2 separate regions of the Homo sapiens genome follow, and region 1 is linked to region 2. The links come from fine-mapping of genetic effects on gene expression. A gene starts in region 2. The other region holds a variant in brackets. All regions are shown on one strand. Distances are between the middles of the regions. Region 1 has its middle 87 kb from the start of TFCP2L1. Region 2 holds the start of TFCP2L1 (transcription factor CP2 like 1).

Evidence for each region. PIP is the estimated chance that this variant, and not a neighbour inherited with it, causes the effect.
Region 1: its variant is fine-mapped to the expression of TFCP2L1 in whole blood (TOPMed, PIP above 0.99). The same link has a PIP of 0.9 or more in monocytes.

The regions. Positions count from the first base shown.
Region 1 is chr2:121,193,437-121,202,185 of GRCh38, forward strand. No RefSeq gene overlaps it. Among named protein-coding and RNA genes, the nearest start is that of TFCP2L1, 87 kb to the right of the region's middle. RefSeq lists enhancers at 3,541-4,439, 6,285-6,786, 6,787-7,286. The variant C/A (reference allele first, on the strand shown) is at 4,520.
Region 2 is chr2:121,281,096-121,289,844 of GRCh38, forward strand. It overlaps TFCP2L1 (transcription factor CP2 like 1), which reads right to left and starts at 4,107. Exons shown (of 15, transcript NM_014553.3): 1 at 3,953-4,107; 2 at 25-176. The coding sequence starts at 4,014. RefSeq lists a silencer at 4,133-4,272.

The DNA of each region.
Region 1 (8,749 bases), 88 kb before region 2:
TTCCCAAACTTATTTGGACACTGACTGTGAAATACAAAGAATATCCATAGACCACAGTTTGGAAAACTCTAAAACAGGTAATACACTTATTCATTCATTCACGTATTCATCCAACAAATATGTGTTTGGCCCTGTGCTGGGCACTGGGGTGGGGCAGTAATTGAAGCAGATGTTGTCCTGCCCTCATGAGCTTACCTTCCACTGGGGGGACAGACCTAATGCCACTTTCTTTCCTTTTTTGTTTTTTTGTTTGTTTTTTCTTTTCTTTTCTTTTCTTTCTTTTTTTTTTTTTTTTTTTTTTGAGACGGAGTCTCGCTCTGTCGCCCAGGCTGGAGTGCAGTGGTGCTATCTCAGCTCACTGCAAGCTCCACCTCCCAGGTTCATGCCATTCTCCTGCCTCAGCCTCCCGAGTAGATGGGACTACAGGCACCTGCCACCACGCCCGGCTAATTTTTTGTTGTTGTATTTTTAGTAGAGATGGGGTTTCACCGTGTTAGCCAGAATGGTCTTGATCTCCTGGCCTCGTGATCCGCCCGTCTCCGCCCCCCAAAGTGCTGGGATTACAGCCTGTTTGTTTTTCTTTTTTTCTTTTTATTATACTTTAAGTCCTAGGGTACATGTGCACAACGTGCAGGTTTGTTACATATGTATACATGTGCCATGTTGGTGTGCTGCACCCATTAACTCGTCATTTACATTAGGTATATCTCCTAATGCTATTCCTCCCCTCTCTCCTCACCCCACAACAGGCCCCATGCAGCTATAAAAAATGATGAGTTCATGTCCTTTGTAGGGACATGGATGAAGCTGGAAACCATCATTCTCAGCAAACTATCGCAAGGACAAAAAACCAAACACTGCATGTTCTCACTCATAGGTAGGAATTGAACAATGAGAACACTTGGACACAGGAAGGGGAACATCACACACCGGGGCCTGTTTGGTTTTTTTTAATGCCACTTTCTTTCATTCATTTACACACTCAATAAATATTGAGTGTTCCGAAGTTCCCAACCCAGTGCCAGACCCTGGAGACAGAATTGAATCGGCTGTGATTGCTGCCCTCAGGAATTTTTAATTAACTAATCTAAGAGACTGTTTCTCTGGAGTAAGGCATAAGTGGCCTGGTTTTTTGCAAAGGAAGCTCCCTTTGCAAACACAAGCCATCCTTCCCCTTTCATTCCTGGGTTAGCCCATCCCTCACACCATAAACCAGGTTGAATTTGGGGTCAAGTTCAACCCTTCATGTGCTGTGAAGGTATTCCACTGGTCTGGGGACAGTGTGGCGGGGGTCTGGCATCCGGCCCTAGGAGCAGCCACAGCAGTGAGGGAGCATTGACCCATGTCATCCCAGGGACCTGATAGCGTTTCCTGCTGCACAGCACCCAAGCCTGGCCTGCAGGCTCTGGGCATCTCTGTAATCCCTTCCAGCAAGATTCAGATGCCTCCAAGCAAGAACCTGCTGCAGGCCGGGCTCCCTGGAAGCAGACTCTGCTTTAGATTAGCATCCGGGACTGTCACTGGGAAGCACTCTGGGACTCCATGTTGGGGTGGGGGATGAAGGTGGGATTGAGTGGAGGGAGAAGTTGGGTTGTGAAGCAGCCTCAGTGGAGGCCTCAGTTGATGCCACAGGCAGCTCTGGAGCTGGCATTGCCCTGAGTTGTCCCAGGTTGGGGCAAGAGACCAAGCCTTTATATCTGCGCATGAGGCTCTTCCACACAGGCACGGGCATCCTCTGAGGAAGAAGATGGCCCTGGGCAATGAAGCTCCCCTCGGCCAAGGCAATTCCTGGAAAGGCTGATGGGCAGCCTCCCAGCAGCTGTGGACTAAGTCCCTCAGTCCTGAAGCAGGACTGGGATGGCTTGTTCCAGCGTCCCCCACAAATGCCGACAGCAAGAGGCAGTCTGGCTAGGGGGAATAGCAACCCTAAAGCTGGTTTTCTCTAAAGCTTTAGAGCCTAGTCCCAACTCCCCACTCCAGCTTACCCCTGGGCAAGCAGCTCTGCCTCTTAGAGGAGCCTCCATTTGCTCAAACCTTGCAGGCTTTAGTGAGGTTAATCATGTCACAGCATTAAGTGAAAGGCTTCCTGGAGGAGGTGACACCTGAGCTGAGTCATGAAAGGAAGTGAAAGGTAGGTGTTGACCCCACAAAGAGGGGAAAGTTGCCCCAGGCAGAGGAGGACACCTGTTGGGACCAGAGGCCTGAGCAGGCTCAAGAGAAGCACCAGCGACTCAGTGTAGCTGCTGTGGAGAGGGAGGGGTGCTTAAGAGATGAGGCAGGATGATGGGCAGGGGCAGATCACAGAGGGCTGGAGGGTCAGGAGAGGGGAGGCTGGCCTCATTCTGCCCTCAGAGGAATCTGCCTTCTATCCTAGTGGCTTCCGGCTTCCATTTGTATGACGCTCACACAAGTTAGGGATGCTCTCAGTGGCTTACTTGTATAAGCTCATTTAACCTTAACAACACTGTTAGGAGGTATGGACTCTTACCAGTTCCATTTTACAGATGAGAACACTGAGGCACGGAGAGGCTCAGTCAGTTGTCCAAGGTCACACAGCTTGTAAGTGGAGCCCAGGCTGTCTGACACCAGAGCACACACTCCTAACCTCTACATTGTTCATCACAGGGGCACCTTTGGGTGGCCCAGGGCTGTGTCCTCTCACCACCCTGATTCTGCTTGACCCAGCCAGGTAGAGCCCTGTGGACGGGGCCCGCCAAACCAAAGCCTTCAAACCCTCCAAACCCTCAAACCCTCAAAGGCAGCTTGTCTTCCAGGGACAATGCCACTGACGCCAAGCCCCAGGGGTTGGGCTATGGGCCAGGGACATGGTTTGGCTCCAGAACATCACAGAGCAATTTGCAACACCTTCCAAATGCAATTGGAGCAGCCAAGAGAGGCAGGTGAGGTGCAGCCCTTACGTGCACCTCAGGTGTATGGCTGGGTGTCGGGTTACCCCAAGGGCAGAGGAAAAGCCTTGGCAGGAGATGAGGGCTGCAGCCAGACCCCTGTCCCCTGCCCACACACCCACATTCCCTCCTGCCTTACGCATTGCTCAGACCCCCACACCCAGTGTAGCCCGGCAGTCCTAGCTACGACCTCCTGCAGCCCCAGCTGCAGCTCCCGCCTCTCACCTCCTTAGCCCCAGTAATTCCACGTGCAGGGGTCTCCTTCCCAACTGGTGTACACTCAGGAGGGGAACACCCATCACCTGCGGCACGCTGGGCTCTGGGGCATAACTCTGGAGGGCTTAAAGACCTCACGTAAGACTACAACGCTTCCCAAGGCTCTGCTGCACGCTAGGTGCCGACTTTGGGGCTTATCTTCCTCATAGCCTCGGCAAACATCAACTGAACACACCTGTGTGCCGTTGGCCTGGGCAGGAGCATTGAGGTGAATCGGGCCCAGGCCTGCTCTCAAGGCACTCACTGGTAAGCACGGGCCTCCTCGCAGCTGGGGGAAATAGTGCCCGGGAGCCATGGGCCTTACCCACAAAGAGACTTAGGGGCCAGTGAGTGATGGAACCAGGCTTGCGTTGGGCCCGCTTTGGGCAAAACACCTCCCATCCCACCTGGAGCTCCTGCCACAATCTACAAGACAGGAGGCAGCCAGACACAGTGGCTCATGCCTATAATCCCAGCACTTTGGGAGGCCGAGGCAGGCGAATCACCTGAGGTCAGGAGTTTCACCCTGGCCAACATGGTGAAACCCCGTCTCTACTAAAAATACAAAAATTAGCTGGGCGTGGTGTCAGGCACCTGTGATCCCAGCTACTCGGGAGGCTGCAGCAGGAGAGTCGCTTGAACCCTGGAGGCGGAGGTTGCAGTGAGCCAAGCTCGTGCCACTGCACTCCAGCCTGGGCGACAGGGTGAGATTCGGTCACCTAAAAAAAAAAAAAAAAGACAGGAGGCTCAGAGAGGACCGCATCTTGCCTGAGCTCACAAGCCAGCCACGGCTGAATTCAAACCGAGCTGTGAATAACTCCGAGTCCACGTGCCCCGGGAACACCAAGCTGAGAGGAGAACAGTGCTGGAACAAGAGACCAGCTCGGGGGTGACACGGAAGGAGCAGGCCTTGGAGAAGAGTGGTGACTCACTGGGACACTTCGTGGTTACAAAACAGGCCAGGCTCCTGCCAGACACTCACACTCGGTTACTTTTCTTTTAATTCCTTCCCTGCCCTTCCACTCCCTGTTCCCTGGGCACAGTAAGTACATTCTGTTCTTCCTGAACTTCTCACTGAACAGGGCAACTCGATTCTTCTCCCATGGACTGAGGGCCCTTGGCCGACTGGAATCACGGGTGCCAGGCCAGGGCATCAGGAAGGACACAAGAGGGACCAGCCTGTTCTGGCCAGCCTGCCAATCTGCCGGCTCCCCAGTGCTTTGGGGTCAAGTTCAACCCTCAACTAAGTCCCAGGCCTTTGAGATGAGCTTACTCTGCAATCTCGTGTCCCCTACCCCTCTCGGGTACCAGCACGGAAGTGCTGACCAACCCTGCATACTCACTGGCCACCCCACACC[C/A]CCGGCCTGCCCACGCCACACCTCACCAGTGTTGACCAGAGGAGTTCCTCAAAATAAAATCCAAATTAGCTAATAGTGTTATTGCAATTTCCTAACATGAATTATGGTACTGCGGTTATGTTAAAGGGTGTCCACATTTTTAGGAAACACTCACTGAAATATTCAGAGGTAAAAGGGCTTCCTGTCTGCAACTTACTCTGAAATATTTTAGAAAAAAATGTATTAAGAGAATGAGAGAGAGGGCCGGGTACGGTGGCTCACGCCTGTAATCCCAGCACTTTGGGAGGCCAAGGTGGGCGGATCACAAGGTCAGGAGATCGAGACCATCCTGGAACACAGAGAAACCCCGTCTCTACTAAAAATACAAAAAATTAGCCGGGCGTGGTGGCGGACGCCTATAGTCCCAGCTACTCGGGAGGCTGAGGCAGGAGAATGGCGTGAACCTGGCAGGCGGAGCTTGCAGTGAGCCGAGATAGCGCCACTGCACTCCAGCCTGGGCGACAGAGTGAGACTCTGAATAAAAAAAAAAAGAGAGAGAATGAGAGAGAGATGGGGAGAAAAAGCAACTGTGGTAAAACATGAACATTTTAAGGAGTTCGAATTGTATCAGAAATAATTTGTACTATTTTGGTAACTTTTCTGTAAGTTTGAAATTATTTCTAAAATTTACAGCTGGGTGTGGTGGCTCATGCATGCCCCCGCTTTGGAAAGCTGAGGAGGGAGAGATCCCTTGAGCCCAGGAGCTGGAGGTTACAGTGACCTGTGACCGCACTCCAGCCCGGGTGAGAGAGCGAGACCCCGTCTCTAAAAAATATAAAATTAAAATTAAGTTACAAAAACTTGGGAGGAAAATAAATTTTAAAACCCCACTAACCTCAAGCCTCATCTCCAGGAAGTGCCCCAGACCCCTGAGGCTGGGATGAGGGGTCCTATGGTGTTGTGACAACTATCTTGGTTTTCGCCCACAGTTCCTGGCTCATAACCCCCACAGCCATCGTTACAGGCTTGGGTTATGGTGTTGGGTGTCTAAGGCCTCAGGGGCAGGCCCTTGACCTTCTCCTGCCCTCCCTTCACGCCTGTGTCCCCTGCCTTTCTGACTGTGGGTCTTAAGACCACAGTCTTACCCTGGGGGAAGGAATGCTGATGTCATGAGGCTTCCATAAAAACCCAAGAGGACAGGGTTCAGGGAGCTTCCAGGCAGTTGAACACATGGAGAACGCTGGAGGGTGGTGCCCCAGGGCAGGCATGGAACCCCCACACCCCTCCGCCATACCCTGCCCTATGCGTCTCTTCACCTGTATCCTTTGCAATATCCTTTATAATAAAACAGTAAACGTAAGTGTCTCCCTGAGTTTTGTGAGCCGCTCCAGCAAATTACTCAAACCCAAAGAGGGGGTCATGGGAACCCCAACTTGAAGTCAGTATGTCAGAAGTTCCGGAGGCCTGGACTTGTGACTGGTGGAGGTGGGGGGCAGGGGCAGTCTTGGGGACTGAGCCCTCCACTTGTGGGGTCTCACACTATCTCCAGGTAGGGAGTCAGAATTCGAGGACCCCCAGCTGGAGTCCGCTGCTTGGTGTGTGGAAAACCCCCGCACATCTGATCACAGAAGTATTCTGTGTTGATGATTGTTGAAGAGAGTTTTCTCCACACGGTTCCCTTCCAGACATGCCCCATCCCCTCACCACTGCATGCCCCCATCACACCTTGTCTCCATGTCCTGTTTGCTTGCCACTTTAGGAGTGAGTGCCCTGGAGGATGGGACAGTGTCTCCTTCCGATCTGTGATCTGGGTGATACGACACCTCTAGCTCTGTGCTCAGTTCTCTACAGCAAGACATGGACCCAGGCAGCACTGGGTGCCAGGTGCCACTCTAGGCCTGGAGAATGCAGTGATGGAGATTCACCCAGCCCCCACCTAGTGCAGCTGACCTTCCAGGAGAACCTGGAGCTGGGGACAGGAAGAAGGTCAAAGCTGGGGCTGCAGGCCTCCTTCCCATGGTGTCTCCTACACTGCAGTCCAGCCATTTCCCACTCCTTCCGGGGCTCCACATAGCCGAGGGCTCCACTTGTGGCTTGCTGTCATCCCCCCCAGCCTCTTGCCTCACACGTGCCCTCCGTGACTTCATCTGACACAGAGACCCTGACCCGCCTGAGCCCTGGCCTTCCCTCTCAGCATGTTTCCAGCTGCCAGTGGGCCAGGCGACAGGGAAGGGATGGCTTTGAGGCCTCAAGGCTCTGGCCGGTGGGCCTTGGGGTGGGGCAGGGTGTGGCACTCCAGGGAGGCTGGCCAGGATGAGCATTGCGGCTGTGGGCTCCTGCAGCTCCTGAGCCGCTGTGTGTTGCTGTAGAGTCCTGAACTCAGAGCTAGCAGTGCCGTGGGGACCCTGCTGTGCAGGCTTACAGTTGCCCTCATTGCTCCAGTGGCTCTGTGTGCGTCTCTGCTCCCTGCCTTTGAAGGACCTTGCAACTTGCCTAAGACAGGGTGCAAAGTGTGAAGAAATGGGGGGCCAGACCGAGTTGTCAAAGAACGCTTCAGCAGAGGGAGACTTCAGCTGAGCCTTGAAGGAGGAGGGAGAGGCAGGCAGATGGAGCACATTCCAGGCAGAAGACTTCCCCAATCGATGAAGGATGTCCTGGAGAAATGCTCAGCGTGCCCTGGCCACAGTGAGAAGACGACTGATTCGTGAGCTCCGGTATCAACAGAAGATGCTGTTTCAGACCCAAGAGGCTGAGCAGATGGCAGAATGGCAGCCTCCAGCAGGGACACAGGGCCAGGATCTATTCTCGAGTTGCTACCAGAGAGCCGGGGCTGGAGGGCCCTCCCTGCTTCCTTTGAAAGACACCCATGCCCCTGGTCTGGAGGGAAGTTACCTGGGCCCTCTGCCCCCAGTACGATGTGACATTCTAGCTACCCAGTGGCTATGATTAAAGGCCAAGAATGAGCTCAGCCATGGAACTCAGTGGTGGCCCCTGCTACCACCTCCACCCTGCCAGGACTGTCTTCCCCCAGTCACACACCTCACCCCCAAAACACAGGATCTCTTTTCTTCCCTGCGGTCATAGCCAAGATCAGCTACAGGCAAGATGCTCTGCTCAGTGCACTTGGGGCCTCCCACCCTGCTGGCTGTTGGCAAAAGGCGCTTTCAGAGGCTCCTCATGCAAGGATTAGGAGCCAAAGCTGGGAGGAAGGAAGGTGAGTCAGACAGACCTGTGTTCCAAGTCTGACCCTCCATGATTTTTGACCTTGAGTGAGCCTTAGAATTCAATCACCTCCTTGGCAGAAATGGACATAAAGATATCTGCACTGCAAAGTCACTCATGAGCATGAGTCCTAACGCACCCCAGATGCCCGGCCTGGTGCCCGGCACAGGGAGCCTCCAGACAGATGGCAGCCATTCCTCATTTTCAGAGGATTTGTTGTGTTCCCAGGTTGGTTGTTTTCCATAATTATCTTCACCAGCCAGGAGTCCCTTGAGCCAAGGATGGTGTCTTGCTTGTGCCTGGGCTCCAGGGCTAAGCACTGCTCCTGGTACATGGGAAGTGCCTGGTATCTGTGCATGAGTGTCCTTACAGGCCAGAGTGTCACCCACCTTCAGATCTGCATTGGGGCAATTTCTAGGGGAGCCTGACTCTGCTGGTCTCTGCCTGATCCTGCCTGGGAACTGGCTGGGAACAGTCTTGGCTTTGCCCTGCCCTGGACCCCTTGCTGGGCCCTGGATCCCTGTGGATGACTTCTCCAGGCTTCACCCCAGGCTCTACCTCCCATTCAGCAGGAGCTGAAAAAGAAAAAAGAAAACAGTCTATGGGAGTCAGAGCCAGAGTCTCCCTGCTAGATCAGCTTGAACTTTGAGTCCACTTTCTCTTCAAGAGGGAAAGAATGAATGAAAGGGACAGATGAAGGAGGAAGGTAGAAGTAGGTGAAGCACAGAACTGGCCTCCCAAGTGCATCTGCAATAGAGGGGCAGGGATGGTCACCAGAAGGTGCCATCTCTGGAGAGGGGTGAGCACCCCTTCCTGGGAGGTGGCCTGAGTGCTGACACAGAGCTGACCAGCCGGGAGGTGTGTACATGGCACCTACATGGACACAGTCTCTGGACAACCTGTAGATCTGCAGCCAGTCCCAAAGCAAGGGAGCAGGAGTAGGTGTCAAGGATGGAGTACGTTCTGCAGGGAGCCCAGCAGCAGGAAGTGGGACCATGCTGGGCGCACCCCTGATAACTTACCTTCCTT
Region 2 (8,749 bases):
TGGCCCGGGGCCTCTGGCCACTACCTTGGTTGAGGTAGGTCAGCGTCTCTTCATGCAGCTTCACGGCTGGGGACGTGGCAGCACACAACACATATTGCAGGGGTGGCAGGCGGGCCTCGTTCTCGGGGGACAGCTGGGGTTCCTCCTGCTTGAAGATGGGCAGAGCGAGCACATCACTGCAACACACGGGAAGCAGAGGTCAGGAGCAGAGCCCCAGGGGGCTCCTGCACAGAGCCAGGGCGAAGCTAGAGAGACGACGCAGACCACCGGGGCCCAGGGTGACACGGCACGCGCATCGCAGGGTGCTGGCTGCACTCCTGCAACCCTCGAATACTCCAGATGCTTTAAAACAGAGGAAACCGCTCCTTCGTGACTCTAGTTTCACTCAATGACCCCCCAAAACACTGATTCAATCAGCCCATCAAGGAGGTAAAAGGGCAAAGTTAGCTAACATCTACAGAAATCCTCTCCATGCCAGAGACAGGCTAGCAGCAAAGGGACCTCTAAGACATTTATTTGGTTTCTATCCACAAGCGATCACTCATAAAGTTTCACTTTTAGAATAAAAATCTAAACAAACATTTTTATTTTTTAATCAACAATTCCATTTACCGGCCACTTCTCATAGCAATACAACTCTGTCCTCCAGGCTCTGTAAACTATGCAAATGAACAAACCACTTCCTTCCCTCCCTGAGTACCCAGGTTGAGACATTCCTCCATCCCTTCTAAAGAGAGGACAACTGGACACTGTTTTCAGGGTCATTCTAATCTGTCCAAAAGGCAAACAGGAAGGAAGGACCTTGGCTTCAAGTCTGTGTTTGTGTGGTTGTTTTTTTTGGGCGGGGGCGGGGGGGACGGAGTTTCACTCTTGTTGTCCAGGCTGGAGTGCAAGTGGCGTGATCTCGGCTCACTACAACCTCCACCTCCCGGGTTCAAGCAATTCTTGTGCCTCAGCTTCCTGAGTAGCTGGGATTATAGGAATGAGCCACCACACCTGGCTAATTTTTGTATTTTTAGTAGAGACAGGGTTCCACCATGTTGGTCAGGCTGGTCACTAACTCCTGACCTCAGGTGATCCACCCTCCTCGGCCTCCCAAAGTGCTGGGATTACAGGTGTGAGCCACCGCGCCCAGCCCAGTCTATTTTCTTATCCAAGTGGGAAATCTTGAAATCCTTGCTCCAAGTTTCTTTTCCTCCACCTCTTAACAAAACTCTCCACATTAAAAAAAAAAAAAAAAAAAAAAAAATGAAGTCATCATCCTGCGACTTAGGGAGGAACTTGTTTCTGGACGTATTTTTTAAGCCAGGAACAGTGGCTCATGCCTGAAATCCCAGTACTTTGGGAGGCTGAGGTGAGAAGACTGCTTGAAGCCAGGGGTTTGAGATCAGCCTGGGCACCATAGTGAGACCCCACCATCTCTAAAAAAAAAAAAAAGGAAAAAGAAAGAAACAAAAAACCCAGCATTTTAAAAATGCCCTTACAAGGGACAAAGAATTCCTTGAGAACATGAATGACCTACAGGCAGGCAAGGCTTGTGTAAGGTCTCTAAATTATGAGCAGCACATAAACAAGTGCCAAATAAGTGCCAGTGCTCTTATCTTGATAACCCTCTTCCCTTCGTGGGTCCCTGACTAGGAATCCAATTAGCTGACCCCACTTGTCTGTATAAACAGAGTCACTGGTACAATCTGTTCCTCGCACATCATAAACAAGCGTCTCTACAACACAAACCCGGCACACACCCCATCAACATCTCATCAATTTTGAGAAGAAAAAGCCTGGCATTGAGCACACACCTGGAAAACCTGCCCTGTGTGGGCCTCCCCCGTCACCATCCACTGCCGAAAAATAAGGGTGCAAGGCCGTCTCGACTTTCCCCCACAGGGCGTCTTCCTTTTGTCAGAGCAGGGCACACTCCCAGCCCGGGTGGTTCTCTAGGAACACTGAGGATTGCATAATTTCATGTTTGCCCAGACCATGTCAAGTTAATAATCCACGGACTGCTGCCTTTAAATTTTTTAAACAGGGGCGGGTGGGCAGAGGAAGTTAAGAACCATCCCTCAACAGTAACTTGTTTCAAGCCTGGCATCTTTATTTGCCAAGGAATAAAAGTCACGAGAACATCAAACAGAAAGGGGGAAGGGAGTAAAGGCCTCTACCCTGGTGAGGTCAGACAGCTTGCAGAAGTTCTGCCAAGTGAGGAGACGACCAAAAATAAAATACAAAAAACGCAAGGAAAAGGACCAGACCCTCCCTCTAGAGTCAGGGGACCAGGGGCATATGCACAAACCGCCACCTTGGCCCTCACTGAGGGCAAAACTCCCAGCTTCCAAGAAGTGAAATAAAAAAGGGCAAGGACTTCTTTATCCATGGTCCCCCGATGACCCCAGAAGCCAATATGGCTTTACAGCACCACCCACTCCCAACGCTCACCCTCCTCCTTTCACCAAATCCTAAAAGGTACCTGAGCTACTCCAGACAAACTTCCATCTCGGTAGCAGATGTCAGAACTGTACCTCCCAGGCAAGGGAGAATTGTTCCCTAACGGGGTGAGGACATTGTAGGTATCTAGGAAGTTTCAAGTACACTCACCTTCAACTCAGGGTCACCTTCAAACTCATTGTTAAGATATGGCAACATACTTAATGGCAGCAAACTAAAACTTAGCCAAAGCTACAACTAAAACTTCAGTACAGTAAAAATGTATTCCATTGTAGCATTTCTTGCAAGTGAATGGACACTTAATCTCTGGGTGATTAACATCTCCTCCTGGGCTTCCCTCTGGTGACATCACCGTGGTCTGCCGGGTGGCTGTCAGCCTTTAAGGCTCTAGACCTTTGCCATCTCCGACTACTTTGGCCCATGAATAAAAACAGCAGATACATCCACTAAACCCAATCATTCCCCCGCCTCCAGGAAAAGGGGATGTCTTCAGGGAGGACAAATACCTACCAGCAGCCAGGAATTACAAATAACGTTTTAAGATCTAAGTGGGAACTTCTTGGGGCCAAAACTAGCACTTAAAGGTAGCTCTAGTATGGGGGCTGTCAATGCCTGTGACTCCTTCGGCCTCATCATTCATTTTCCTTGAGCCCATATCAAATGCCCTTTGGGTTAAATTAGGCACATTTCATAAACTGTGACTAAGATGGAAATAAGGACAGGCTAAAGCTGGTTCAGGCGAGTTCACAAAGTGAAATGACTGCCCATTAGTCCCGGCCAGCAGCAGAACAGGGAAAAACAATCCTCCGGGAGCGAGAGCACACGGGGTCCTACTGCTAAGAGGGGCCTGTGGGGAACTGTGCAAAACACGCAGGACTTACTTTCCCCTCTGAAGGGCACTACTCAAATCCCTCCAGCAGAAGAAAGATTTCCATCAAGGGCAATAACCACGCGGGCCTCGGGCGAACACGCGCAAGACCATCGCGGGAAGTGGGGCGGCCTGCCCCTCCGAGCCCGCCGCCCGCCCCTCGTCCAAGGAAGGGCACTGCAGAGGGCGCGAGGCTGGGAGAGGGGCCCCGGCGGAGACGGGCAAAGAGCAGGGGACGAACTTCCCCGGGCCGGGCACCAGGCTGCTGGCAGGAAGTTTCCTCTGCTTCTCCGATACGCGGGGGAGAGGAGGGCCGCAGGGGGCGGACGGGCCAGGGGAGGCGGCGGGCCGGCAGGTGCGCGCCCTGCACCCTCTCTGCCGCCTGGGAGGAGCCCTCGCAGACATAGGGCTCTGCGCGCTCGCCTCCCCAGCGGGCCCCCAACTCCGCACGTCGGGTCCCGCCGGCGTCCATCTGTCAGTCCCTAGGCGGGACGCTGGGCGGGTCTCTCAGTCCCCAGAGGGCGGACAGCGGGGAGGCCAGGGCCCAGCAGGGGCGCCCCCTCTCCGCCCCTGGACGTCCAACGGCGCCCGGCCCGCCGGCCCGGCCCGAGACCCGCGGGGACCGCGCGCGGCCCTTACCGCAGGTAGCTGCCGGAGTTGTGCTGGTTGTAGTGCTCGGGCTGCGTGTGCCAGAAGAGCATGGCTGGAACTCCCAGCGCGCCGACCGGGGCGCGGCAGCAAGCGCAGACGCGGGGCGCGCCGAGGACCCAGCGGCGGCTTCGCGCTCCGAACCCGCGGTGCCGGCCGGCTCGGCGCATTTATCGGCGGCCCAGGGGCGGGACAGCGGTGAGACCCGCCCCCCAGGAAGCGCGGCCCGGAGGGCGGCTCCCCGCGGCAGCCGCACCTGGCTGACTCCCGCGCGTGCCTTTCCGGCGAGCGAGCGCGCCTCCGGGGCGGCCAGACCAGAGGGCTCTAGGGCCGGCCGGGTGCTCTCCCCAAACTCCGATGTGGGGCTCAGGTGACCCTTGCCGCCCCCAACCCGCTCCACACGGCCCCTCTGGCCTCTGCTCCCCACTCTACGCCCAGGGCCGGTCTCCAGAGCGGCTCCGAGATTTCCAGCCTAGGCCCTCTCTGTCGCCTTTCCTCGCTCTTGTTTTTTCATAGCACTTCAGACGCTCTGAAATCATGGGGGTTTTTTTGTTGGTTTTTTTTTTTTTGAGACGGGGTCTCGCTCTGCCACCCAGGCTGGAGTGCAGTGGCGCGATCTCGGGGCTCACTGCAACCTCTCCTCCCAGGTTCAAGCAATTCTCCTACCTCAGCCTCCTGAGTAGCTGGGATTACAAGCGCCCCCCATCACGCCTGACTGATTTTTTTATTGTTAGTAGAGACGGGGTTTCGCCATGTTGGCCAGGCTGGTCTCGAACTCCTGACCTCAGGTGATCCGCCCACCTTGGCCTCCCAAAGTGCTGGCATTACAGGCGTGAGCCCCCGAGTCAGGCCGACATTTTTTTATTTTTTATTTTTACTTGTGTACTGATTGTCTTTCCCATTAGACTGTAAGCTCCAAGAGGACAGGGCCTGGCTCGCTTAACACCCCGTTACCTGCACTGCCTAGAACAGTGCATGGGACATAGTTAAGATAAATGTTTGTTGAGTAAACATAAAAAAAGAAAAAAGGAATGCACCAAAAGAGTAATCAGAGAAGCCTTCCTGGAGGAGGTGACATTGAGCTGAGACCTGATGGATGCAAAGGAAGCATCTCTGTGAACATCACCTAGGGAAAAATAGTTCCAGGCATAGTTCCCTACCCCCTTGGCAACAGTGACTGCCAAAGCCTTGAGGAAGACCTACTTGGCATGGCTGGTCTTGAGGAGAGCTTAGGAGATGAGGTGAGGAGGGCGGGGAAGATCAGAGGGCCTGGCAGGCCAGGACAAGGAGCTAGGATTTTATTCTGTGTTTTAAGCAGAGGAGTCACATGTATGATTTGCCTTTTGGAAAGATCAGTCTGGCAGCAGTGTAGACAGTGGGTCATGGGGTGGAGGGGAGGGCCATTAGGAGGGAGTGGAGTTCCCTGGAGCCCTGACCCCTATCCAGGTGCTATCCGGTTCTCCAGTACATGGCACAGCACCTGGCACAGAGGAGATGGGGATTCTGTCCCTGAGTATTAATCCAGTCAAATGACATCCCTTGGGGACCTGGTCCAGAACTCCCCACTCCCCCACGCATGGATGTGGGTAAAACCCTCCCTCACTCTGCTGTTCCTGCCCTCCTCCCTCCAGCCATAGGTCACAACTGGCAAACCACTTCCTCTGTGCAGCCCTCAAGGACTGCCCCCCACTGTTCTGCCCTGTTAGGAGAATGGGAATATTTCCCCGGCTTCAGGTGGTGCTGTCAGCAGACAGTCCCCCAGCCATCGGCTTCTCCAGGAACTGCCCCTGCTCAGAGAGCAGCCTTGCCCTCTGTCATGTCCCTCCTGGGATAGCCCACATCCCAATGACTATCCCAGCAGAAGTATAAAAGCTTGGCCATCTCTGCCTGACTGGGGACAGTGCTGATGGGGTATTTTAGCCCCAGGACTCCCCATGAAGACAGTCAAAGCTGTCACAAGACCTGTGTCCTGCTCAGGGTCTCCCTCCTGCTTCCTTCCAGTTCCTTGCCCAGGGGTTACTCTTAAGGGAACTTCCAAAGAAACATCCTGAACACCGACCCCCACAACCAACCTCACCCCATCAGGGTCCATGACAAACCCATTGTTTAAATGGGAGACACTCTGGGGTGGTCTGGAAAGAACATGTCCTTTGCTGGACTCGTCCTTGAGTTCTAACAGGAGAGGTCCATGGGTAAGCAGCAGTGACAGTACAGTGTGGTCAGGGACGTAGAGGCTGCCCTGGGAACACAGAGGAGGACTCTGGAGCTCCGAAGAGGCTCCAGCATGAAGTGATATCTCCTGATGGATGGGTGAGTGGAAGTGAAACCAATCTGTGGAGATGGAGGGAGGTTTCCGGCCCAGTAGACGCTCCTGCAAAGGCCTGGAGGAAGGGCAGTCAATATTATTAGATGGTTCAGACCTGGGTTTACTACTTAGCTCCATCTGAATCTATGACCTTGGGTGGAGTAAATTGACCTCATGCTGCTTCTCCCATCAAGAGGTGGTGTCTGTTTCCCTCCCCTCCCCCTTCCGCCTGGGCTGACCCTGTGACTTACTTTAACCATAGAATGCAGAGGAAGTAATGCTTTTCCCTTCTGGGCTGGCCCCTAGGCAGCTTCTCTTTTTTTTTTTTTTTTTTTTGAGACGAAGTTTCTTGTTGCCCAGACTGGAGTGCAATGGCAGGATCTCAGCTCACCGCAAGCTCTGCCTCCTGGGTTCAAGCGATATTCCTGCCTCTGCCTCCTGAGTAGCTGGGATTACAGGTGCCTGCCACCACACCCAGCTAATTTTTTATATTTCAATTAGAGACGGGGTTTCACCATGTTGGCCAGGCTGGTCTAGAACTCCTGACCTTCAGGTGATCCACCCACCTCAGCCTCCCAAAGTGCTGGGATTACAAGCATGATAGGCAGCTTCTCTTAACTCTCCCAGAGCTCTGAGCCACCAGGTAGAGTCCAAATGCCCCATTGGAGAGGGAGACCTGGTCAGCCTCCAATCCCTCTGGCCACTCCGCAGAGCCCATCTAAGATGCCCCAGGGGATTGCCTCCAACCACACCTCATAGAACTGAGGCAAGCCCTGCCCACCCAAGCCCTGCCCAAAATGCAGGCTCGAGAGCAAATGGATGGCTGTGGCCTTACGCCACTGAGGTGTGGGCTGGTTTGTTTCATACAAATGGAAAAATGATACGCTGGGCCCTGTGGATCTGGGTTTTGCTATTGGGAATAATAAGGGCTCATTTCATGGTTGTGGTGAAGCTTAGGTTCAGGTGAGTTTAGCTTCTCAGGGATGATGGCTCTCATGACCTAAGTATGACTCTCTGTATTTTGGGTCATTGCCTACTTTCTCTCTCTTTGTAGGTTTTTAACTATGGGAGGGTAGAATTCAGCAATGCCTACAGAGACAGCATTTGAGTCACACTGTGTGAACAAAAATGCATATTTCTGCCCATGACTCTTGGGTGTTACAGGGCCCAATTAGGCCTAGTCTGGACCCCTGGGGCTTCCAGGCTGCTGAGGAGGAGGAGACAGATGTGCAGGAGATGGCCTGCCAGTTCCTCTTTTATTCTGTGAATGTTCACAGTTCCCATGTGGTGGGAACATTGATTTTTACTATGCACCAGACCCAGAGCCATGCACTGTCATCTCCCGACACTGAGAAGAAGAGACATCACCTGACCTTCTGATTGAAGAAACAGGCTTGGGAGGCTGACTGCCACAGCTGGGATTTGAGGCCAGGCCTGTAAATTCAACAACCATACTCCGACTCTCATCCATTCCTGTCTTAAGGCCCGGCATTCCTTTCTTCACCCCACACTGGGCAAAGGTGCTGTGACCAGATGTCCTCTGCTCCCAGGATCAGCCCGGGGTCCCTGCAGAGGCAGCAGAAAGGGGCCCACTGAGTACTCAGGTGTCACCCCCTTAGCAGCCCCACAAGGGATTCCCAGCTGCTCTCGAAAGAGATCACGATGAATACTGGGGATTCACGTCTGAGAAGATGGTTTTGAGGCATGAATAGGAGTTGAAGGATGGCCAACGTAGAGGGCGGAATTGAGCCAGAGGGAAAGCGTGTGCACACATGTTTATCACAGTTTATCTTGGGATCAGCAGCGCTGAACGAGGGAAGCAGTGAGCAGAGGACAGAGTTAAGCTGTGAGGCCTCAGTGGATCCTATATGAGCTCAGGGCCAGGCTGGTGCTCCAAGTTGTCCAGAATTTGGGCAGGGGTTCAAGCCTTTCTATACCACCTTGACCAGTCATGGACAGATGTGGTTGCCCTGGGGAAGGGACATCACTTTGGGCAAAGCAGCTCAGCTGAGTCCTGGAGAGGGACCTGTCAGTGTTATCACCTGCCAAGGCTCCCTGCAGCAGGGGCTTGAGTGCCGCAGCTGGAGAGGGACACTTTGGCTGGACATGACAGCACCCACCACGCTCTCCAAGCTCAGAATCTTTGTTTATGGAATGAAGATGATGATGCCTCCCTGATGGAGCCGTTGGGAGCATTAAGACAGTGATGGAGCGTGCAGGGCAGGCTTGCCTGGCTTCTCTAAGGCACTTTGCTTTTCAGCCCTGGGTCAGCAGTCTCGCTTTAATTTCTTCTTGAGTGTTCAACAGCATGTGGTTCATCAAAAGCCCTGTGTGCTGGTAAGGATTACATTCTCTGCAAGTAACAGAAACCCCAAAATGAAGTGGCTTAGAAGAGATAGAGGCTTATTTCTCCCTCAAGTTCCAGAAGTCTAGAGTTCATGTCACCCGCTAAGGTACCCTCTTGGCACATACGGCTGTTGAGC